Regions from separate parts of the Homo sapiens genome. Here all the other regions are linked to region 4. Evidence: fine-mapped expression QTL. A gene starts in region 4. Each other region holds a variant in brackets. All regions are shown on one strand. Distances are from middle to middle.

Region 1 (5,000 bases), 120 kb before region 4:
AGTTCTAGGACCCCCTTCTCCATACCAAAACCTGAGGATGCTCAAGTCCCTGATAGAAAATGGTGTCATATTTGTATGTGCATATTCTCTTGTATAATTTAAGTGATCTCTGGATTACTTAATACAATGTAAACAATATGTAAATAGTTGTTATAGACTGTATTTTAAAAATTTTGTATTCTTTATAAATTTTTCTGAATATTTTCAATCCATGGCTGGTGAAGTCCTCGGATGCAGACCGTGTGGATACAGAGTGCCGATTTTATACAGGAGTTCACCTGTAACTCCCTGTACCTATCAACAGCTGACTCCAAATTAGAAAGAAATAGAGTAAGGGAGCCTCAGGGAGAGTCCTAGCAAAACGGATTCGATTAAACTTCAGTTCCTTGTATAGTTTCTTTAGTTGTTTATGGTCCATTTTCTATTTTAGCATTTATTATTCTATGTAGTCTATCCAAAGACGATTAAGGGAGTTCCACATGTTTTCCGGAACATTTTGAAAAGAGAGCTTATCCAGTGTACAGATCCTAATAAAGTGCACATTCAGTGTAATTTTATTTTTTTAATATCTTTTTTAATCCTATTTTTCTTCCTCTTTTGCTCAGTAAATTTTGTATGAAACTTTAAAAGGACTTATGGCATGTAAACATTATTTATAAAGTAAGTCATGGTTATAATTATTTTTCTCCTGCCTCCTTATGTATTTATTTCAGAAATGAGCCGTCAGACTGCTACAGCATTACCTACCGGTACCTCGAAGTGTCCACCATCCCAGAGGGTGCCTGCCCTGACTGGCACAACTGCATCCAACAATGACTTGGCGAGTCTTTTTGAGTGTCCAGTCTGCTTTGACTATGTGTTACCGCCCATTCTTCAATGTCAGAGTGGCCATCTTGTTTGTAGCAACTGTCGCCCAAAGCTCACATGTTGTCCAACTTGCCGGGGCCCTTTGGGATCCATTCGCAACTTGGCTATGGAGAAAGTGGCTAATTCAGTACTTTTCCCCTGTAAATATGCGTCTTCTGGATGTGAAATAACTCTGCCACACACAGAAAAAGCAGACCATGAAGAGCTCTGTGAGTTTAGGCCTTATTCCTGTCCGTGCCCTGGTGCTTCCTGTAAATGGCAAGGCTCTCTGGATGCTGTAATGCCCCATCTGATGCATCAGCATAAGTCCATTACAACCCTACAGGGAGAGGATATAGTTTTTCTTGCTACAGACATTAATCTTCCTGGTGCTGTTGACTGGGTGATGATGCAGTCCTGTTTTGGCTTTCACTTCATGTTAGTCTTAGAGAAACAGGAAAAATACGATGGTCACCAGCAGTTCTTCGCAATCGTACAGCTGATAGGAACACGCAAGCAAGCTGAAAATTTTGCTTACCGACTTGAGCTAAATGGTCATAGGCGACGATTGACTTGGGAAGCGACTCCTCGATCTATTCATGAAGGAATTGCAACAGCCATTATGAATAGCGACTGTCTAGTCTTTGACACCAGCATTGCACAGCTTTTTGCAGAAAATGGCAATTTAGGCATCAATGTAACTATTTCCATGTGTTGAAATGGCAATCAAACATTTTCTGGCCAGTGTTTAAAACTTCAGTTTCACAGAAAATAAGGCACCCATCTGTCTGCCAACCTAAAACTCTTTCGGTAGGTGGAAGCTAGACACATGAAGGTAAATAAAAAGAAAGGCTGTTAAATACAGGAAACAGTTGCATGTAGTAACACTAATATATTTAAAAATAAGTCAACAGTAAACCACTGAAAAAATATATGTATATACACCCAAGATGGGCATCTTTTGTATTAAGAAAGGAAGCATTGTAAAATAATTCTGAGTTTTGTGTTTGTTGTAGATTGATTGTATTGTTGAAAAAGTTTGTTTTTGCGTGGGAGTGTGTGCCTGCGTGGGTGTGTGCGTGTTTGGGTTTTTTTCCTTTAACTGACAAGCCATCTTGAGTGGTCATGGGCCACTGCTTTTCCCTTTGTGAGTCAATACATAGTGCTGCTGTGTGCTTTTTTTGTGTGTATTTGCTAATTTTTATTAATTTTAGTTTTTCATTAAATAAATTTGACTTTTCTGTAATTCAGGTTTTTCCTTTTTTTGTACCATTTTAAAGTTAGTATCTTTTGATATGCATATTTGTTTATGGTAAAAAATTTATAACGTGTTCAATATTTTCTTTTCCCCCATTAATCAGTTCATTAGAAATATTTTAAAATCAGCTATTTTGTGAAGCCATGAGTTCCAGAAAGTAAAGGTGACATCGGAAAAATAATCAAAAGCTATTTAAAGCATCTATAAGGTGCTCTCTTTCTGTCTTCTACAGATGAGTCACACCTTTGAGCTTAATCTTTGAAAGGTTAGAGAATAAATTGATTTTTATAAATACTGCAAATCAGGCTTTTGTTTCCTTTTTCA[G/A]ATATCTTGGACAAATCACATATTTTAAAATTTGTTCTTGTATTTATTGGTTTTGCAGAAGAAGGCATCGTCATGCACAGTATTTGTAATTAAAAGCAAATCATTTGTTTAAAAAGGCAGTTTGCAAAAAATGTTTTTGGTCTTTTATAATTCTCATTAAAAGAATATCTGGCAAATTAAAAAAATCTTACTGTGTCTGCTTTAGCTCTAAGTTTGATAAAATCCGAAGTTATTTTCCTGTTTCATTCCATACTTTAATTATATAGCAGAAAGCTGTGTGTTGTCATTTTTAAGTGCGGTAGACTTAACTCTAATCACAGCAAATAACTGGGTATATGGCCTCTGGATTAGTCTTTCCCATGCCCTGCCCCTCTTGCCCACATTTTGATTCTTACAACTGTCAGGAGAATGACTAAAATGCTGACCACTTTTCACCTCTTTAAAAAAGCACAATGATATAATAAATTCACTATTTCATAGCCTAGTGGCTAAGAGCCTTGGTTCTGCAACCAGACTTCCAGGCACCTAAGTGCCAGTCTCGGCTCTACCCCACTAACCAGCTGTGTGACCTTGGGCCCCAGTTTCCTAATGTGTAAAGTGGGGTTAAATTATGGTAGATACTTAAAACCTTTAAATGGGGTACAGGTATGTTACCTGAAACAGTGCTTTGCTCATATCAGCATCCAGCGAATGTTAGCTACCATTATGCCTTCAGTACCATGTAGTTAACTGTTGCTAATTACTTTGAGGCACATGGCAAGATTCTGAAATTGCCTTCTGAATGGTGAAAGAGAATTTTGTGTGGTTTTTATGGGTACTGTAAGCCTAGAAAGTCAATGAAAATTTGGGCTTCACCCTTATCCCACCACTGATTCTGGATAATTTTGGATAAGAGTTTATTTCTGTTATCCATTTTCAGAAAAGATGATTGTGTAGTCTCTTCCTTACATAAATATCTTTTGAACTGGTTATAATGTGCTTGTGGAGCTTTTTTTTTTTGAGACGGAGTTTTACTCTTGTCACCCAGGCTGGAGTGCAGTGGCGTGATCTCGGCTCACTGCAACCTCGGCCTCCTGGGTTTAAGCGATTCTCCTTCCTCAGCCTCCAGAGTAGCTGGGACTACAGGCACGTGCCACCATGCCCGGCCAATTTTTATATTTTTAGTAGAGACGGGGTTTCACCATGTTGGCCAAGATGTTCTCAATCTCCTGACCTTGTGATCCGCCTGCCTCCCAAGTGCTGGGATTATAGGCGTGAGCCACCGCGCCCGGCCTTGCGTAGCCATTTTTATGGTGAAAGAGAACAACAGTTCAACCACAGATTTATATTCAAGTCTGTTCATTAGCATGTGTGCTTGGAAAAAGTGACTTTTATTCCATATTTAATGTTGTATGGTGAAAGGGTTACATTATAATATGTAAAAGGGCTCCCAATATCTTTCAAAATAAACGTGGCTGGACGCTGTGGCTCATACCTGTAATCCCAGCACTTTGAGAGGCCAAGGTGGGCGGATCACTTAAGGTCAGGAGTTCGAGACCAACATGGTGAAACCCTGTCTCTACTAAAAGTACAAAAAAGCCAGGCATGATGGCACACCCTATTAGGGAAGCTGAGGCAGAAGAATCCCTTGAACCCAGGAAGCGGAGGTTGCAGTGAGCCAAGATCGTATCACTGCACTCCAGCCTGGGTGACGGACTGAGACTCTTGGCTCAAAAAACAAAACATATTGGGTATATTCGTGGAGGTATATCATTTTGTAGTTTTACTATTAAGTGTTTTGATTATAAAGTTCATGTAGACTTTGGAAATTATAAAACTGCACATACAATTGAGATGTGTAATCTTAACTGTCCACTCAGGTGACATTTTTATTTTTCCAGTTTTTTTTATGTGTATGTACATATGCTCATCCTCTGTCACCCAGGCTGGAGTATAATGGTGCAATCGGTTCACTGCAGCCTCAAACTCCTGGGCTCAAGTGATCCTCCCATCTCATCCTCCTGCGTAGCTGAGAGTACAGGTGTATGGCATCATGCTTGGCTAATTAAATTTTTTTGTGGAGATGGGGTCTCGCTATGTTGCCCAGGCTGGTCTCAAACCCCTTGGGCTCAAGTGATCCTCCTGCCTTGGCCTCCTGAAGTGCTGGGATTACAGGCATGAGCAGCTGGCTCCAGCCACATGTTTATTTTCAAAGATATTGGGAGCCCTTTTATGTATTACCTTGTAGGCCTTTCATCACACAACATGGTCATCTGAGTGTTTCACCACTTTAATAATCTTGGAAAAATAATTTTTGTTAGTTTGAGGATTCACTGTAATTTTACCTAGGTTCTTGCTGGATATAAGTAAACCATGAACATACCTGTATGTTTTCTGTTTATATTCTTGGGATTATTTTTTACACACTTCATCATTGCTTTCTGGAGAGGTTCCAGAGGACACCAGTAACTGTGTGAAGTTTTCCATTTTCATTTTCACCTCATGTTTTGCTAATTTAAGCAAATTAAGGTAGTACATTTTGTGTTTAACAGTTAATAAGCTTGACATTTTAGTATTAACTATTTGCATTTGG
Region 2 (5,000 bases), 51 kb after region 4:
CTATGTTCCAGGCACTGTGCCAAGCTCTAGAGGGGAGGGGTATAAAGTCATCTAAGAACCAACCCTGGAATCTAGCTGGAGAATTAAGACTTGCTTCCATCAGATGGTAAGAGAGATCTCTGTGGCCAGGGAATCTCAAATCTCATCAAAGAAGAGATAGCCCTTGAAGGAAGGATAGAATTTGGGAAAAGACTGTGGGCACGGGACATGTGAGCATGAATAGATGAGAGGAGTGCTAGAGCAGGAGGCAGTGCCCCAAGGAGTGTACCCTGCCTTTTCCTGCCCTTAACTGCTTCAAATCCCAGCTCTGCCACTCACCAACTCTGCAAGTTTGGGCAAGGGAGTTCCCCTCTCAGATTAAGTTTCCTCATTTTATTAGCCTATTTGTGCTGCTGTAACAACATATATTAGACTGGGTAGTTTATAAAGAACAGAAATTTATTTCTCACTGTTCTGGAGACTGGGAAGTCCAAGATCAAGGTGCTGGCAAGTTTTTTGTCTGGTGAGGGCCCAGTATCTACTTCCAAGATGGCGCCTTGAACGCTGTGTCCTCCATCCCTGGAGGGGATAAATGTTGTATCCTTACATGGTGAAAGGGACAAAAAACCAGGAAGGCAGCTCTCTGAAGCCTCTTTTTTAAGGGCATTAATGCCACTCATGAGGGCTCCATCCTCATGGTCGTCACCTCTTAGAGGCCTCACTTTCTAATACCATCACCTTGGGAATTTGGTTTCAACATATGAATTTTGGAGAGACACATACATTCACACAGTAGCACTATTGAAAATGGGGATAGGAATTACTAATTCAGAAATAATGCATACATTTGGTACTATTCCTGGCATGTAGCACATAATAGTACGTACCACATAAAAGGTAACTGTTATTATTATTTATAAAACTGAACCTGCAGGACCTGCATAAGGTGAACTAACTTCTCTAGAACACTGCCCTGTGCCAGGCACTGGGCTGAGTGCTTCACACACATTATATCATATCATCTTCAGCATGGCTCTGAAGCTGGTAAGGTTATCACTATTTCATAGGTAAAGAAGTGGTATGTTGCTGACATTTGGTACCTTATCCAAGGTCACACGGTTTGGAAGTGGTGGAGCCAGGATTTGAACCCAGGGCTCTCTGACTTTGGAACCCAGCTCTTCCCATTCCTCCAAGGTGTCCACATTGGGTGGGGCTCAAGGGTTTCCAAGCACTCAAAGACAGAGATGGCCGAGCAGCTGAGTCAGCAGTTGCCTCGCACCTGTTTGTGGCACTTGTACATCACCACTGTCTCCCTCCCAGGTTACATGGTCTCTTGCATAATTTTCTTCTTCGTGGTGCTGATCGTCTTCTTAACGATCTTCAGCTTCTGGTGGCTGAGCTACTGGTTGGAGCAGGGCTCGGGGGTGAGTGCCATGAGGTGGATGGGCTGTGTTTCTATGGGCTTGAGTGAGGTGGGGTGACTTCTTGCTCCTTGAGACCACAAGAGCCAGAGCATGGCTTGGGACCCACATGACAAGCCCAGAGCTGGTGTTCCAGAGAGAACCGTGGGGAGCCAGGACTCTGGGGTTCCCCTGGCACAGGCCTCCTGACTTTGTAGAATGGGTGGTCGCCTGTGCAGTCTTACTGGAAAACCAAGAGATTTATATCCCCAGACAGTGCCCCAAGAATCTTTGCATTCCACTGCAGTAACTGTCTCCTTTAGCTCCAGGCTGGCCTCCATACTATGGTTTATTTAAAATATACTTCTGGTCTTGTGAGCTGGGAGCCACCACGGGCCACACTGTGTCAAGTTATTTCACTAATCTCCCCACCCACATTCAGAGGAAGGTTCCACTGTCTCCATTTTTCCAAGGGGACCCTGTGCCTAGAGAGGATGAAGAACCTGCCCTAGGACAGGACAGGGCCGGAACTTGAACTTGGTGCTTAGAATCGAAGCCATGCTTTTCCCACAGTACTCCATATGGTTAATTTCTGGATCGTGTACCAGGAGGTTTGGGTCAGGAGAGCAGAAGCCACTCTAAGTATTTAGAGCTTCCAAGGATTTAATATAGGGAATTAGAGGCTCAGTCAACCATTGGAGGGGAATTGGCCATCAGGGATCTCAGCTGAACTGAAGTGGGTGATTCCCAGGATGCCTTCCAGCCTCTGGAAAAACCCCACACCCCATGCTCCTGCCCACAGTTGCCACTGAGCATGCTGGCTTCTCCTCTTCCACCTTTCTGTTTCCCTGTGGGTGCCTCTCCTTGGCAGAATCTGACCTGAAACCATGCTGGGAGGGGTTCTGGGAAATCACGTTCCCAAGCTTCTCGCTGCATCACAGCAGAGCGTGCACAAGGGCCCAGCTGCTGCAGTGTCCACGGGGCAGACTCTGAGGGCCTGATGCAGGGCAGGGCAGTGGGAATGAAGGGCAAAAGAGAGTAGCCAAGCGCTGAGCAGGGAGGTTTGGGCAAACAGCTTCACCTTCTACCAGCCACAGATTCTCACGTGGCCCCAGGGAGAAGGCTTTCCCTGCCACTGAATTTCCCCCGGACACCTGCAGTCAGACCCCCTGTTCTTTCTTGAAGACCAATAGCAGCCGAGAGAGCAATGGAACCATGGCAGACCTGGGCAACATTGCAGACAATCCTCAACTGTCCTTCTACCAGCTGGTGTACGGGCTCAACGCCCTGCTCCTCATCTGTGTGGGGGTCTGCTCCTCAGGGATTTTCACCAA[G/A]GTCACGAGGAAGGCATCCACGGCCCTGCACAACAAGCTCTTCAACAAGGTATGGGCCTGGGTGCTGGGTGGGGCCGAAGGCTGAGCTCTGAACTTGCCCAGCTTCATTTTTATTTTTTTATTTTTTTATTTTTTAGAGCTCTGTAGCCCAGGCTGGAGTGCAGTGGCACAATCTCCACTCATGGCAACCTCCACCTTCCAGGCTGAAGTGATCCTCCTGCCTCAGCCTCCCAAGTAGCTGGGAGTACAGGCACATGCCACTAGATCTGACTAATTTTTGTATTTTTTGTAGAGACTGGGTTTCACCACGTTGCCCAAGGTGGTCTCAAACTCCTGGGTTCCAGTGATCCATCCACCTCGGCCCCCCAAAGTGCTGGGATTACAGGCATGAGCCACCACCCCCGGCCTATTTTTTTTTTATTAGTAGACCTTAATTATTTATTTATCTGTAGAGATGGGGTCTTGCTCTGTTTGCCCAGGCTAGTCTCAAAATCCTGGGCTAATGCAATCCTCCCACATTGGCCTCCTAAGTAGCTAGAATTACAGGTGTGAGCCACCATGCCCGGCCAACTTTATTTTATTATTATTTTTTATTATATTTTAAGTTTTAGGGTACATGTGCACATGCAGGTTAGTTACATATGTATACATGTGCCATGTTGGTGTGCTGCACCCAGTAACTCGTCATTTAACATTAGGTATATCTCCTAATGCTATCCCTCCCCCGTCCCCCAACCCCACAACAGGCCCCAGTGTGTGATGTTCCCCTTCCTGTGTCCTTGTGTTCTCATTGTTCATTTCCCACCTATGAGTGAGAACATGTGGTGTTTGGTTTTTTGTCCTTGCAATAATTTTCTGAGAATGATGGTTTCCAGCTTCAGGATTATAAATCATGCTGCTGTAAAGATAAATGCACATGTATGCACACGTATGTTTATTGTGGCACTATTCACAATAGCAAAGACTTGAAACCAAGCCAACTTTATTTTTTGAGCACTTTTCGTTTACAGAAAAATTGAGATGAAAGTACAGAGAGTTCTCATATACCTGCCTATCACTCAGGCTGGAGTGCAGTGGTGTGATCACAGCTTACTGCAGTCTCGACCTCCTGGGCTGAAGCAGTCCTCCCTACCTTAACCTCCGAGTAGCTGGGACCACAGGGGCACACCACCATGCCTGGCTAATTTTTGTATTTTTGTGGAGACAGGTCTTGCCATGTTGCGCAGGCTGGTCTTGAACTCCTGGGCTCAAGCCATCTGCCCATCTCAGCCTCCTAAAGTGCTGGGATTACAGTTGTGAGTCACTGCACCTGGCCCATTTCTCTTATTCTTAACATCTTGCATTAACGTGGGACATTTGTTACAATTGATGAGTCAATATTGGTACATTATTAATTACTATTATTAATGAATATCCATAGTTCACCTTATGGTGCATTCTTTGTGCTGTGCATTCTATGGGTTTTGAAAAATGTATAATGACATGTATCCATGGTACAGAATAGTTCCGCCGCCATAAACAAAACCCTGTGTCCCACCTATTCATCCCTCCCTCCCTACCCTCAAACTCCCAGCAACCACTGATCTTTTTTACTCTCTTCATAGCTTTGCCTTTTCTAAAATGTAGTTGCAGCTGGGTGAACCAGGCTGCTTGGTGAGAAGGGAGTGATGAAAGTGCGGTGGAGCTCTCCTGCTGGAAGTCTGGTTCTAAGAGCTCAGTGTCCCCTGATGGAGGGCCACAGTGACGCTGGCCTCCACTGGCTGAGCATGGTCATATACAGAGTTGCTTATGATTGCCCTGAGTTCTCTTTGAAGTGGATATTATCCTCATTTTACATATGAGGAAACTGAAATCTCACATATGTTAAAGTTGGAATATGTGTTTGGTTAGAATACTGAATTGTCAGCTGGGTGCAGTAGCTCACGCCTGGAATCCCAGCATTTTGGGAGGCCTGAGGTGAGTGGATTGCTTGAGCTCAGGAGTTCGAGACCAGCCTGGGCAACAAGGCAAAATCTTGTCTCTACCAAAGATATAAAAATTAGCCGGACATGGGGGCTTGTGCCTGTAGTCCCAGCTACTTGGGGGACTGAGGATCAAGGAGGATCGCTTGAGCCAGGGAGGTGGAGGTGGCAGTGAGCTGAGATCATGCCACTGCACTCCAGCCTGGGAGACAGTGAGACCCTATCTCATTTAAAAAAAAAAAAACCAAATTGCTTATGGTATCACACTGCTTCTTGGAAATGTCATTCCTCTCTCTCACTTACTAAGTGTTACTATGTGCCAGGTT
Region 3 (5,000 bases), 98 kb before region 4:
TGCTGGGACTGCAGGCATGAGCCACCATGCCCAGCCAAGATTCTTATTGATTACCATGTTGCTTCAAGAAGCCAAGCCAGTTTCCAATATTCCCCATTTGCTGGAGTCTTGGTACTTTGGGTAGAAGCAACTGGTAAATTGTTAATTGGAACAGTTGGTGGTGTAGATAACCACGTATGGCCAAACCTAGAGCATCTAGGCTCACAATTACTATCCTGACTTGATAACAAGTGTTCTGATATTAACCTGAAAATGGGAATAATGCCAAATCTGTGTAACTTAACATCTATATACACAGTGGGGAGAACTGAAGTTATTAAACCTGGAATCTCTGTGATCAAGGCTAACAGTAGTTATCTAAGAAGCAAAGGACCTACAATTCTTAGACTTGGAGTCATATTCTTTAAGGACGTGTTCTGAAACTATATCAAGCATCTGGTTTCCACGTATTTCTCCCTCAGAAATTATGAAGTACAAGTAAAAATGAAGGTACAGGGTAAGACACATGCTGCTTTCTTGCTCTTGAGTGGAGACAGTTTTCCAGCCATCTTAACCCCTTTACACAAAACAATTTGTGTTTTATAGCAAATAAGTGACTCAACATAATTTCAATATGATGTTTATCCACCAGTACTTTCCTTTCAGCTTCTAGTCCCATAAATGGTTTGTGAAGTCATCGGTTACATTAGCCAAGATAGGCCTAGACTTGAAGTCTAGAATGTTTTTCCCACTATATGCCAAAGTAGAATGTGGGTATCTCAGGGTCATTTTTGTTGTTCAATTTCCCACCTGTACAGTTGTTATGATTCACTTTCCTTATGTGTCTAATAAATCTTGTTCCATGAAATGATCAATTTCTTCTGAAATCTATCAATAAGGTAAATATGCAGATTAAGGAAGTATTTAAAATATTTAAGTAAAAATCTAAAACAGAATGTGTCTTCTAATGTATGATTGCATTCTTTTTTTTTTTAGACTGAGTTTCGCTCGTCACCCAGGCTGGAGTGCAATGGCACGATCTGGGCTCACTGCAACCTCCACCTCCTGGGTTCAAGCAATTCTCCTGCCTCAGCCTCCCAAGTAGCTGGGACTACAGGTGTGCGTCACCATGCCCGGCTAATTTTTGTATTTTTAGTAGAGACGGGGGTTTCACAATCTTGGCCAGGCTGGTCTCGAACTCCTGACCTCATGATCCACCTGCCTCAGCCTCCCAAAGTGCTGGGATTACAGGTGTGAGCTGCTGTGCCCGGCTGATTGCATTCTTAATACATCAATGCTATTAGTTTTTAAAGAACATTTGGAGTATCTAATTATTGCCAATTTCACACTACTCTTCCCTCTTAACTAAAAATAGTGATATTTGATTGAAATTGTAAGCATGCACAACTCTTTGTGACCCTTCCAATCCTAGATCAACACGTATAGACCCATCAGAGGGACCCATATTTGACATTCATTCAACAGTCCTTTACCAAGCATCCTGATGCAGGCTCTGTTACAGGCCATGGGGACATAAGCATGAATACCTCCTGGCACTGAGACTAAGGGCATCAGACACAGGAGCAGTTATACTCCAGTGTGGGGAGCTCTGAAGAGGCAAGCGTCCCTCCCTGTTTGGAGAGAAGACACAGGTGTCACAGGAGAGGCTGAGTCTTAAAATATGAGTGGGAGTTTGCCAGCAGATGTCAAGGAATGGAGATATGAAGAATTTTGTAGGCCTTCTTTCCAAGGACAAGCACGGTGCCACATGAGACACAGAACCTGAGCTGTCAAATTGCTGTGGTGTGCAGGTTGCTCTGTAGTGGTGTTCACACCATCAACTGGTTTCTTTTGTAGCTCATAGAGCACTTGAATGCTCCTGCCAGGGCTGTCACCACAGAAGCGATCCATCTGGCAACTTCTTTAAAGTCTTAGTACTGAGATCCCAAGTCTTGAATTCATGAATATTTGATTTTTCTAGTTGTAGATTTGTTTCAGTAGCATTCAGAAATGGGAAAAGCAGATTCTACATCCCTTGGAGAGGTGTTGGGGTCCACCACTGTCATCTCTTAAGCAGCATTAAGCAGCCCCAGCCTGGCCTGATGCTTGCATTGCTGAGAACCAGCTGCTCTCCAATCCTTCCAGTAGGGCCTTTTCTTGGCACAACGGATTCCTGTTGGGGCCTTGGACCAGACTGAACATGCAGCATCAGTGCTGCCTTCAACAGGTGGCACAGCAGGTTTATATGGAGCAACATGGAGAAGTAATTTACTACCATGATTCTTTGAGGCATTTAGTTGGTGTTTACACTCTTTCTCAGTTCTAGCAGCTAATTTTGTTTGCTTGAAAGGCAAGCATGATGACAGAATCTCCTGGAATTCGCTTCTGGATGCATTCTATTCAGGAGGCTTTAAAGTGTCTTCATGTCTATCCTCTTCTTCCTTTATTATTTTCTCAGGGCAGTAACCTTTAGACAAGGGCTTTTCATACACCATGGTCAGAAGCCAACACTGAGGCTTTTATATGAGGTGGGGGACTACCTCATGAAAACATGAGTCAGGAATAATCAAATGACAGAATCCTGTCCCCAACCAGGTATATTGGTCCTTTGTCCCTTTGGAGGTGCCTAATGTCCGTTCCTTTTGCTAAAACTAGCCTGATTTCCGGCAGTGACCTACTCTTTCCATGCAGGCTCCCTGAAGCAGAAAACTCAGGATTCTGTCTCCCAGTGACAGAGTGAAAGGGCACAGCCAGTGACTGAGGAGGTGCCTAGGCCCACCTACTCGCATGGCCCCTCCTCGGATTCGGGGCAGTTCTGAGTCT[T/C]GCCGTGATAGCACATGCAGTGTGAGCTATGCCTAGGCTTCCTGGGGACACCTGCACCCACTCCTGCTCCTCCCCACTTTTTTTGTAGTAACCTTTATTTTTATTTTTAAAACATGCACTTAATTGATATTGTTTCTGTAGGAAACTTTATGTATTTTGAAAAGGTGACCTATGATACTGTTCCTAAATCTGAAATCTAGGCTAAGTTCCTAGAACCCATTTGATATGGTTTGGATCTGTGTCTCCACCAAATCTCATGTTGAACTATAATCCTCAGTGCTGGAGGTGGGGCCTGGTGGGAGGTGACTGGATCACGGAGGGAAATTTCTCATGAATGGTTTAGCCCCATCCCCTTGGTACTGTCGTCCTCGCAATAGTGAGTGAGTTCTTGTGGGAGGTGGTTGTTTAAAAGCATGTGGCCACCTCCCCTCCTGCACTCTTGCTCCTGCTCTGGCCACATGACATGCCGGCTCCCCCTTCACTTTCTGCCAAGGCTGTAAGTTTCCTGAGGCCTCCCCAGAAGCTGATGCTGGACCTATTTATTTATTTATTTATTTATTTATTTTTGAGATGGAGTCTCACTCTGTGTCCCAAGCTGGAGTGCAGTGGCACGATCTCAGCTCATTGCAACCTCCGCCTCCTGGGTTCAAGTGATTCTTCTGCCTCGGCCTCTCGAGTAGCTGAGACTACAGGTGTGCGCCACCACGCCCAGCTAATTTTGTATTTTTAGTAGAGACAGGGTTTCACCATATTGGCCAGGCTGGTCTCGAAATCCTGACCTCATGATCCGCCTGCCCTTGGCCTCCCAAAGTGCTGGGATTACAGGTGTGAGCCAATGCACCTGGCCTAATGCTGGAGCTATGCTTCCTTTAGAACCTTCAGAACCGTGAGCCAATTAAACCTCTTTTCTTTATAAATTACCCAGTCTCAGGTGGTTCTTTGTTTTTTTTGAGACAGAGTTTTCACTCTGTCACTTAGGCTAGAGTGCAATGGTGTGATCACAGCTCACTGCAGCCTCAACCTTCTGGGCTCAGGTGGATCCCACCTCAGCCTTCCGGGTAATATTTTGTATTTTTTGTAGAGACCAGGTCTCACTTTGCTGCCCAGGTTGGTCTCGAACTCAAGCGATCCGCCCACCTTGGCCTCCCAAAGCGCTGGGATTTACAGGCGTGAGCCACTGTGCCTGGTTTCAGGTATTTCTTTATAGGAATGCAAGAATGAACTAATCCATCATTTTTCAATCTGTTTAGGGAATACAAAAGATATTATTAATTAATAAAAGTGTGCCTTCTTACCTTACTTCCCAACTGCCAGTTTGCTAGGTCAGTAATATTTTTTGACATTAATATATTTTTGTAGATTCATCTTCGATGAAAGTAAAAAAATAGTAAGTGGTGGTATAAGGTTATTAAATATGTACAAAATTTGGATTAGAAAAACAATGGGGATTTTTTGGTGATTGGGGGTAGGTCTCTGTTTTTAGGGAGTATGGTAGTTGCAGAAATTAGTATTTGTTTTTTCTTTTTTAGTATTACTGGGCAATGCAGTGGGTACACTGACTCACCAAATTTGAACTCTGTGATAACGTGCACATGCTTACCACCATTTATCAGAGGAAGACATCAAGCTCAAAGAGACTAAGTTTAAAATTTAGTCAGTAAGAGGCTGCCTTGCAACTTTCAGGCCTTATTCTTCTACCCTTCTGAGCCCCTGCTTATGGCAGCTGGCTTTACCATCCTGACTCTCTCTTCACTGTCTCTGACATTCAGGAAGATTCTAAACTCTGCTCCTTCCTTTCTGCCCCAGCCCCTGCTATCACCCTGGGTGTCTTCAGTGAAGGCATGATGCTCTCCCAGAACCTGGCTTCTCAGTTCTTTAAATGCCTCCTGAACTCAGCCACCCTCTTCCAGGTACTTATCACCAACAGAAACCATGCTACCTCTGAAACCCCTGACCATCATTTCTTATCCTTCTAGCTCGCCTGTACTCAAGCCATGAACTCCAGCACATTCCCATCATACAGCAGCTCTGCCCTAACTTCACTCCTCTCTTGTGCAGCTCACACACGTTAGCCCCATCATTATAATCTTTTCCTTATAAATAACTCAATATTCTTGTCCCTTTCTACATAATATCCTGCAAAAGGTATCCCTTCTCCCAACAAAAGCCATTTCCTCACTGGTGCTTTGGGTCCCACC
Region 4 (5,000 bases):
AAAATGAAGTCTAATAATGACCACTCTTGCCTAGACAGGGAACTAAGTGTGCCTGGGCACAGAAGGCAAAATAATTTGGGAAAAGTAAGCAGAAGGAGCAGAGTCGTATGTTGGGAAACTAGAATCCAATACAATTTATCAAAGAGTACTGAAACTTGGAATGTGACCAATTCCACTCAGGCAATAACCAAAGCAGGTCAGATGGGAGCCAAAATATTTTCCATGCTTGAGAAAATCAAGGCTTTTACAATATAAATGAATACTGGGCTGCTGTGGAAGGTTTGTTGGTCTTTGTTGCTTTGTTTTGCTTTCTTTTAACGGGGGTGGGGGGAGGTACCAGTCTCCTTTGAGAATCTGAAGAAAGCAAAGGATTCTCCTAAAAAAATGTACATAGTCACAAGATTTTGAGGAAAAATAAGACATGTCCAACCCTCCGGAAATCCATTCAGAGTCAGGAACCCCTAATTTAAAAATAAGGGATAACTGCCAGGAAAGGAGAAGCTCTAAACTGAAAACACAACACCTCCAGTAGAGTTAGGAATAGGAGGCGGGTGCTTGGCAGGTGAGTTTGAAGATACTTGTTGAGAGCATACGATATACCAGCATTGTCCAATAAAAATATAATGTGGACCACATATAAAATTTTAGTGGCCACATTATAAAGTAAAAACAGCAGAAATCTTAACATTTTATTAACCCCAAGTACTCAAAATATTACCTTTCCAACATTTAATCCATATAAAATGTATTAATCAAAAAGTTTTTTCAAAATCTGGCGTGTATTGTACACTTACAGCACATTTAGGGTGACCAACCTCCTGGTTTCCCTGGGACGGAGGGGCTAAAACATAGGACTTTCAATGCTAAAACAGACAATCGCAGCAAACCAGGACAACTGGCAATTCTATCATCTCAATTTGACGAGCCACATGCACTACACAGTACTGGACAGCAAAGTCATCCATCATGCATGGTGCAAAGTGGAATATACACATTATTCAATTTATTCTTCATAACTTGCCTAAGAGATGGATGCTGTCAGTTTCCAAATTGCAGAATAAAAGAAATAGAGGTTAAAGCTCTCACCCAAAGTCACACCAATAGGGCGAGGGTACTGGGCAATATAGTAGTAAGCCTGGGGCCTAAGAAATGTTATGAGTGAAGGAGCAGAGGTGAGAAGCTAGGAAAGTTCCAGAAAGGGGGACCAGCGAAAATGTGAGCAGTAAAGGCCCTTTACAAAGGGAAACAGAAGGATTAGGGGGAGAAGGAGAAGGGTGGCAGGGAGTATAGAAGAAAGGCACCCACAAATAGTGCAGTTTAGGAATGAAACAGGAAAAGTTAAAACTCACGGAGCAGAGAATGCCTCAGCGGACAAAAATGATGGGTGACAGAAAAGGGGAGGCGGATAGGAGTAAAGGGCAGTGGGGAGAAAGGTGAAAAGCGAAGGCAAGTGAAGGCAGAGATCACCGGGGAGAAAGAAAGGGCCTGGAAAGTTAAAAGCACTGGCCTAGGAGGCTGAAGACCGAGGGCGAGGAATTGCGGAGAGGGGGAAGAGGATTCAAATTAAATTATCCAGAACGGTAGGGAACTGCGTAGTTTCACCAGGTGTCAGGCACTACTTCATGAACGATCTCATTCATGGTCATGGGGCAGGTATCTGACATCCCCATTTTGCAAGTGATAGCACCAGAGAGGCGGAACCGAGCCGCGAAGGCCGCCCCGAACTGAGCCTCGCGCTCAAGGCAGGCCGTGGCCTGGGCCCAGGTCCCCGGAGGAGGCCGCGCCGCCCGCCGCCGCCGCGGGGGCAGCCAGGCCTACCTGTGCAGCGGCGGCAGGTCCTGCGCGTCGCTGGCGGGGTCAGGCGTGTTGGGGATGACGCCCAGGATGGTGCTTTGCAGCGACGTGCCCTTCAGAAGGCGGCTCCGCACCAGCTGCAGGTTGCGGGCCGAGTCCACGCTGGTGCGCATGGTGGAGCCGGGCAGCAGGACGCCCTCGTGGGTGAGCAGCAGCGGGAGGCGACTGGGGATCTGGATGGGGCTCACTGATGACATGCTGGCAGCCTTTCGCACTGGGGGCTGTCAAAAAGAGCCAGACAGACAGCTGCCCCCGGCCTGCCCCGCAGTCACCAAACCTCAGACCCGCCTCCACGCCTCCGCTTCCGGCTACGCGCTACGGTCCGTCCCCGGGCCCAAAAGCCATGGCTTCGCGCTGCTCTCTAGGAGAGCCTCCCGGTAAGACTTGAGCGTCCTACCTATGCGGAAAGACGTGCACTCAAGCGTGCAGCGACCTTCGCCTCACTTACAGAGTATATTTGGAAGGATGATCTTATTTGAATTGTATATACTTGAAGTGTTTTTAACGTTTTCTTCGATTTTTTACATATACTTGAAGTGTTTTTAACTTTTGATTCGAACTAATTATTTATTTATTTATTTATTTATTTATTCTGAGACAGATTCTCGCTCTGTCGCGGAGGCTGGAGTGCAATGGCGCGATACCCACGGCTTGCAGCCTCTGCCTCCCGGGTTCAAGCGATTCTCCTGCCTCAGCCTCCCGAGTAGCTGGGATTACAGATGCCCGCCACCACACCCAGCTAATTGTTGTATTTTTAGTAGGGAGGGGATTTCACCATGTTGGCCAGGCTGGTCTTTAACTCCTGACCTCAAGCGATCCGTCCACCTCGGCCTCCCAAAGTGCTGGGATTACAGGCGTGAGCCAACGTGCCCGGCCCGAATTGATTTTAGATGTACAAAACTACAGCAGAGTTCCTATATACCTTTCACCCAGTTTCGTCTGTTATCATCTTACATAATCATAGTTCAATGATCAAAACCAGGAAATTAACATTATTATCGTTTAACCTATAGGCCTTACCCAAATTTTGCCAGTTTTCCCACTAATGTCCTTCATTGGATCTGGTCCAGGATCCAATATCCAGGATCCTGTTGTGAAATCTCCTAGGTGTTTTGTTATGAAATCTCCTAGGTGTTCTCTAATCTGTGGCAAGTCCTCAATTTTTTTTTTTTTTTTTTTTTTTTGAGACGGAGTCTCGCTCTGTCACCCAGGCTGGAGTGTAGTGGCGAGATCTCGGCTCACTGCAAGCTCCGCCTCCCGGGTTCATGCCATTCTCCTGCTTCAGCCTCCCGAGTAGCTGGGGACTACAGGCACCCGCAACCACGCCCGGCTAATTTTTTGTATTTTTAGTAGAGACGGGGTTTCGCCATGTTAGCCAGGATGGTCTCAATCTCCTGACCTCGTGATCTGCCCGCCTTGGCCTCCCAAAAGTGCTGGGATTACAGGCCTGAGCCACTGCGCCCGTCCAATTTTTTTTTTTTTTACAACCTTGATACTTTTATTTTTTTTCTGTTTTTAATTTAATTTTATTTTTTATTATAGTTTAAGTTCTAGGGTACATGTGCACAACGTACAGGTTTGTTACATATGTATACATGTGCCATGTTGGTTTGCTGCACTCACTAACTCGTCATTTACATTAGGTATATCTCCTAATGGTATCCCTTCCCCCCCACTCCCCACCACCCAACGACAGGCCCCTGAGTGTGATGTTCCCCACCCTGTGTCCAAGTGTTCTCATTGTTCAGTTGCCACCTATGAGTGAGAACTTGCAGTGTTTTGTTTTCGGTCTTTGCGATAGTTTGCTCAGAATGATGGTTTCCAGCATCATCCATGTCCCTACAAAGGACATGAACTCATCCTTTTTTATGGCTGCATAGTATTCCATGGTGTATATGTGCCACATTTTCTTAATCCAGTCTATCATTGATGGACATTTGGGTTGGTTCCAAGTCTTTGCTATTGCGAATAGTGCCGCAGTAAGCATACGTGTGTGTGTGTCTTTATAGCAGCATGATTTATAATCCTTTGGGTATATACCCAGCAATGGGATGGCTGGGTCAAATGGTATTTCTAGTTCCAGATCCTTGAGGAATTGCCACACTGTCTTCCACAATGGTTGAACTAGTTTACAGTCCCACCAACAGTGTAAAAGTGTTCCTATTTCTCCACATCCTCTCCAGCACCTGTTGTTTCCTGACTTTTTAATGATTGCCATTCTAACTGGTGTGAGATGGTATCTCATTGTGGTTTTGATTTGCATTTCTCTGATGGCCACTGATGATGAGCATTTTTTCATGTGTCTGTTGGCTGCATAAATGTCTTCTTTTGAGAAGTGTCTGTTCATATCCTTTGCCCACTTTTAGATGGGGTTGTTTGATTTTTTCTTGTAAACTTGTTTAAGTTCTTTGTAGATTCTGGATATTAGCCCTTTGTCAGATGGGTAGATTGTAAAAATTTTCTTCCATTCTGTAGGTTGCCTGTTCACTCTGATGGTGGTTTATTTTGCTGTGCAGAAGCTCTTTAGTTTAATTAGATCCCATTTGTCAATTTTGGCTTTTGTTGCCATTGCTTTTGGTGTTTTAGTCATGAAGTCCTTGCCCATGCTTATGTCCTGAATGATATTGCCTAGGTTTTCTTCTAGGAATTTTATGGTTTTAGGTCTAACATTTAAGTCTTTAATCCATCTTGAATTAATTTTTGTATAAGGTATAAGGAAGGGATCCAGTTTCAGCTTTCTACATATGGCTAGCCAGTTTTCCCAGCACCATTTATTAAATAGGGAATCCTTTCCCCATTTCTTGTTTTTGTCAGGTTTGTCAGAGATCAGATGGTTGTAGATGTGTGGTATTATTTCTGAGGGCTCTGTTCTGTTCCATTGGTCTATATCTCTGTTTTGGTACCAGTACCATGCTGTTTTGGTTACCATAGCCTTGTAGTATAGTTTGAAGTCAGGTAGCATGTTGCCTCCAGCTTTGTTCTTTTGGCTTACGATTGTCTTGGCAATGCCGGCTCTTTTTTGGTTCTATATGAGCTTTAAAGTAGTTTTTTCCAATTCTGTGAAGAAAGTCATTGGTAGCTTGATGGGGATGGCATTGAATCTATAAATTACCTTGGGCAGTACAGCCATTTTCACGATATTGATT
Region 5 (5,000 bases), 58 kb after region 4:
AAATGTAGGTGGTCATTTGGTCAGTGCCATGAACCTTTAAGAAATTGCCTTCTGTGAAGAGTGACTGTGCCAGGCTTGGGGAAGCCTCAGAAGGCCTAATTGGATCATGGTTTTGCCATTAACCACTTGCGTAATGAGTAAGTTACAGAGCCACTTCCTCTTCTGCAATCTTCAGTTTCCTCATCTGCAAAACAAGGACACCAAACTAAATGCTTTTGTTAGAGCCTACCTTGTGGTTTGACATGTCCTTTGATCTCCGAAAGGCCTCATGGCCACTGGCTGTTAGAGATCAACTTGCAGGTGCCACCCTCAAGAAGGGGGCAGTTAAGGCTAAATTTGATCCAAGGGTCCAAATCGTGTGCAACCCAGTAGGATTGCTGCTCCTAATCTTTGGCAGTCCTGAGTGAAAATGGTCCCATCTGTAGAAAATAATAAGAGCTGGTATTGGTAGAATGCCCTACTGGGGGTGATGGAGGGCAGGTAAACCCCAGACTGGGGCTTAGTCCATGAGGGTTCTTGGCTTTGCCCAGGAAAGAATTCAAGGGCAAGCCAGTGGTAGGGTAGAAGAAAACAGCTTTACTGAAGTGTCACTGTTGCAGTTCTGGCAGTGTTGCAGCTCTGTGACTGACCCTGCAGAGCAGGGCTACCCCGTAGGCAGTGTGCTGAGAGCTGCAGCTCAGGGCAGGTTTGCAGTCATATTTATACCTACTTTTAATTACATGTAGATTAAGGGACAGTTTATACAGAAGTTTCTAGGAAAAGGGTGGCAACTTCCAAGTCATCAAGTCATTGATGACCCAGAAAGAGGCGGTAACTCCTGGGTGTTGCCATGGGAATGGTAAACTGACACGACACACTGGTGGGCCTGTCTTATGGAAAGTGGCTTCCACCCCACCCCTGTTTTAGCTAGTCCTCAATTTGGTCTGGCGTTCAAACCCTGCCTCCAGAGTCAAGTCTCACCTCCTACCTCAGGGGCAGGCACTGCTCTGAGCATTTTTAATGTATTCTCTCTCTCTCTAATAGCTTTACAGGATATAATTCATATACCATACATTCAGCCTTTTAATTATACACTTCAGTGTTTAGTATATTTGAGGAGTTGTGTGATCCTCACTACAACTCTGTGAAGCATCGTTTTCATTCCCATTTCGCTAACGAGGACCTTGAGACTCAGAGGAACTCAGTACTTGCCCGAGGTCAGACAGCAGTAGGTGGAGGAGTCAGGTAGCCGTGGAGCCCATCCATGCTTTTAAATCATTGCTCTACATTGCCTGCCCTGGAGACCCCTGGGATCCGTGGCTCTTTAGAGTCAAGGGTAACAGGCATCTTCATCCAATCTTGAGCAGGGCCTGCAGCTTCTCTCATGGTCTGCGTTGATTTTGTCCCTGCAGGTTTTCCGCTGCCCCATGAGTTTCTTTGACACCATCCCAATAGGCCGGCTTTTGAACTGCTTCGCAGGGGACTTGGAACAGCTGGACCAGCTCTTGCCCATCTTTTCAGAGCAGTTCCTGGTCCTGTCCTTAATGGTGATCGCCGTCCTGTTGATTGTCAGTGTGCTGTCTCCATATATCCTGTTAATGGGAGCCATAATCATGGTTATTTGCTTCATTTATTATATGTGAGTAGGTTCTTTTTGCTTGTGACTTGGGGAGCAAGGCTGGGACCAACCCAGACTAGATGGTCCCAGAGGTGGACGGTCCAGGTCCCTTACCTCCACTGTCCATGCAGGATGTTCAAGAAGGCCATCGGTGTGTTCAAGAGACTGGAGAACTATAGCCGGTCTCCTTTATTCTCCCACATCCTCAATTCTCTGCAAGGCCTGAGCTCCATCCATGTCTATGGAAAAACTGAAGACTTCATCAGCCAGTGAGTCCTTCTGCTGCCATTTGAGAATGATGGAACCACAGGGGTGGTGGGGAGCAGGGAAAGAATGGAGCGTCTGGGAGTGGCATCATCTTCAAAAGCATCAGAGAGCACATTGTTCGATGGACGTATTTCTCTGAGCCTCCAGAACCTGCTGAACCATTCTTTCATTTATAAGAATGAAAAATGTAAATGATAGGAAAAATGTTTGTAAACTTTAAAGACCTTGTATATATTGTGTATATATATATGGACATATGTATACATACATTTAATGATAAGGTGCATTACTGTGCAAACACATCTTGCATTATGTTATTTCTTTCACTTCCAAACAAATATCTATCTTTAACAAAATAATGAG[G/T]AACAATAGCTTTCTAAATAATAGAACTTCCTTCACTACTCATGCCATAGATTTGCCCCCTAAATGTTGAAACAAACAAGCAAACAAGTCCTGTGATTGTTGTTGAGGTTTAATGGTGTAACACGAACTTATCTGTTTGTAGAGAATAATCAAGCACGGTCTTCACCTACAAGAAGTTCATAGTCTGGTGGAAAAAGGGAGAAACAGGCACATGTTTTTGTAATTATACGTGATTGAAGAAGGTAGATAGCATAAGAGAGGGGCAGATAAACTGCTTGGGAATTCAGAGGGGAAGGAGGTGGCCTGGGGGAATCAGATAAGGCTTTCGGGAGGAGGTGGCATCTGAGCTGGCCTTGAAGCCTGGGTAAGACTTGGGCACACATTTGGGAGACGGTATGTGCTCAGTTAGCTGGAATATTGGATTAATTGTGGCACCTGCTCTCTCAGTGGCATTATAGACCACTCAAGGTCTGTGCAGACTCTAGGACTGAGGGGATCCTGGAGCGGTGCATTCATTCAGCCCACACTGAGAACCCTGCCCCAAGGTATATACTAAGATAAGCAGATGAAGAGAGTCTGGAGGGATTGGAGCTGTTGTTGGGGAAGGTGTCAGAGAAAAGGACCCTGAGATGAAGTGTGGGTTGAGCTATGGAAATATGTGGGTAGGAGCTCTCCAGGCAGAGGGGACAGTAAATGCAAAGACCATGAGATGGGGGAAGTAGGTTTGAAGGATAGCAAGGTGGCTTGAGCACAGGGGCCACAGAGTGACCAGGGTCTGTTGTGTTTAATCTGGGAAGGCCTCAAGGTGGAGGTGACTCAATCAGTATAGAAAGGTAAGGTGGACAGAATTTGGAATGTCTTATGCAAAGGTTCAGAGGGTATGGACAGAGTGAGTCAGAAGGGCCACTCTGCTGGGGTGATAGCCCACTCAGATGGTAAGATGGTTTTAGTTGATGAGTAAATGAATATTTAATTTCAATAATCAAAGGTTTATTTGAATGTACTTTAGAAAAAATGCAACTAACATATCAAACCCATTATTTATATAATTTAAGGTTGTGATTAAAGTTTCTTTTAATATACATTCTCAAACAAAGCAAGTAAAATAATAATACTAATCAAATAACAGTACAGGTTGTGATTGACATGGAAAACTGTGATGGTGGTATGTGAAAATTGGAAATTGGTAGGTTTCTTGGTTGGAAGTGACAGAAAAAACTAATGCAAACTAGCTTAAAAATATGACTTAAATATGGCAAAATACTAACAATTGCTAAATTAGGTAGAGGGTATACAGATGTTCACGGAATAAACTTTTTAATTTCTTGGTACTTTAAAAAATTTTCATTAGAGGGTATACAGATGTTCATTAAATCAAGCTTTTAATCTCTTGGTACTTATAAAAATTTTCATAGCAAAAGGCTGGGGAGGAGGACTTGCTTAAAGTGAGGCTTAATCCAGAGACTCAGCTAATGTTCCCCGGGTGTCTCGGTTTTACTGCTCTGCCTTCCATGGTGTTATTTTACCTTTAAGCTCCCAGAGACCCTCTGGTGGCTCCAGGCTCCCCTCCTAGTAGCAGAATGGTAGTTTCAGATATCCCATCATCCCACTGAAAGGAATCACTCCCACACTCACTCACACGTCCTGGCATTTATTCACTCTCTGTGGCCAATTTGGGGTAACTCACCCATCCCTGAGTGAGTCACAGAGGTTAGGCGAGGAGCGCGTGCTAAGGATGGGCCTTAGCAGCAGAGCCTACTCCTCAATCTGGGTTAGGAGTCAGGTCAACTTCACCCAAATTCATGGCTGAGAAAGGGGTAGGGAGGAACTCCCCAAAGAAAAATCAGGCCCTGCTGCTGGGAGTGGGGAACTGGATGCTGGAGGAAGCAGCCGGTATCTACCCTGACCCGGGGAGACCCTAGGTCAGACAAACACATGGTTCTTAGTCTGTGCTTTCCTTCTCAGGTTTAAGAGGCTGACTGATGCGCAGAATAACTACCTGCTGTTGTTTCTATCTTCCACACGATGGATGGCATTGAGGCTGGAGATCATGACCAACCTTGTGACCTTGGCTGTTGCCCTGTTCGTGGCTTTTGGCATTTCCTCCACCCCCTACTCCTTTAAAGTCATGGCTGTCAACATCGTGCTGCAGGTGAGGGGGTGACTCTGTGTGGGCCCTCTCTGAGCTTTGCTCATCCTCTGCCTGTGGCTTCTGGGCAGACTCAGGGGGTCCTCAGGTGTTCAATGACACCTTAGGCTCTGGCCACGTGTGATCTTAGGAGCTATGTGCTTGGCCTTCTGAAATTGGTACTTTGCTCTGTTTCCTTGTGGTCAGCTCTGAATTGGGAAGTCTGTATTCAAAGGTATTTAATAGGATCACAGGACACTGGGAGTGAAGGGGAGCCCACAGATGACAGAGTCCAGTGTGCATATTATGCAGATGGGGAAACTGAGGCCCAGACAAGGGAAGGAGTTGTCCAAACAGATGCATGTTAGCAGAGCTGGAACGAGAACACTGATCTCTTGGCTTCCTGGCTGCTGTCTTTGTACCTAACCGTTCCTATCCTGATTGAGCTGTCAAACCTTTCTGAATCACCTGGAAAGGTTGTTTAAAAGGTGGGTTTCACAGCCCAGCCCCTAGAACAGGGCTTCTCAAACTTAAATGTGCCTAAGACTTGAAACAGACTTCTGGACCTTAGCCGGGGGGTTTGACTCACTCTGGGCATGGGTGGGGCTGCCAGGAGGACCATAGTCAAGGGCCACAGCCATAGAG

Evidence for each region. PIP is the estimated chance that this variant, and not a neighbour inherited with it, causes the effect.
Region 1: its variant is fine-mapped to the expression of LONP2 in whole blood (INTERVAL, PIP above 0.99).
Region 2: its variant is fine-mapped to the expression of LONP2 in monocytes after LPS (Fairfax 2014, PIP 0.91).
Region 3: its variant is fine-mapped to the expression of LONP2 in whole blood (INTERVAL, PIP 0.90).
Region 5: its variant is fine-mapped to the expression of LONP2 in nasal epithelium (TOPMed, PIP above 0.99).

What each region holds. Positions count from the first base shown.
Region 1 is chr16:48,358,144-48,363,143 of GRCh38, reverse strand. SIAH1 (siah E3 ubiquitin protein ligase 1) reads left to right here. Exons shown (of 2, transcript NM_003031.4): 2 at 714-2,613. The coding sequence starts at 716. The coding sequence ends at 1,564. It also overlaps a transcript of LONP2 not described here. Among named protein-coding and RNA genes, the nearest start is that of SIAH1, 25 kb to the left of the region's middle. The variant G/A (reference allele first, on the strand shown) is at 2,429.
Region 2 is chr16:48,190,282-48,195,281 of GRCh38, reverse strand. It overlaps ABCC11 (ATP binding cassette subfamily C member 11), which reads left to right. Exons shown (of 30, transcript NM_001370497.1): 19 at 1,300-1,403; 20 at 2,565-2,762. Among named protein-coding and RNA genes, the nearest start is that of ABCC12, 37 kb to the right of the region's middle. The variant G/A (reference allele first, on the strand shown) is at 2,714.
Region 3 is chr16:48,339,669-48,344,668 of GRCh38, reverse strand. All of the region lies in intron 12 of LONP2 (lon peptidase 2, peroxisomal), which reads right to left. Among named protein-coding and RNA genes, the nearest start is that of SIAH1, 43 kb to the left of the region's middle. The variant T/C (reference allele first, on the strand shown) is at 2,803.
Region 4 is chr16:48,241,440-48,246,439 of GRCh38, reverse strand. It overlaps LONP2 (lon peptidase 2, peroxisomal), which reads right to left and starts at 2,140. Exons shown (of 15, transcript NM_031490.5): 1 at 1,819-2,140. The coding sequence starts at 2,051. All of the region lies in intron 1 of ABCC11 (ATP binding cassette subfamily C member 11), which reads left to right. RefSeq lists an enhancer at 2,115-2,204.
Region 5 is chr16:48,183,819-48,188,818 of GRCh38, reverse strand. It overlaps ABCC11 (ATP binding cassette subfamily C member 11), which reads left to right. Exons shown (of 30, transcript NM_001370497.1): 21 at 1,392-1,618; 22 at 1,729-1,866; 23 at 4,193-4,379. Among named protein-coding and RNA genes, the nearest start is that of ABCC12, 30 kb to the right of the region's middle. RefSeq lists a silencer at 87-381. The variant G/T (reference allele first, on the strand shown) is at 2,228.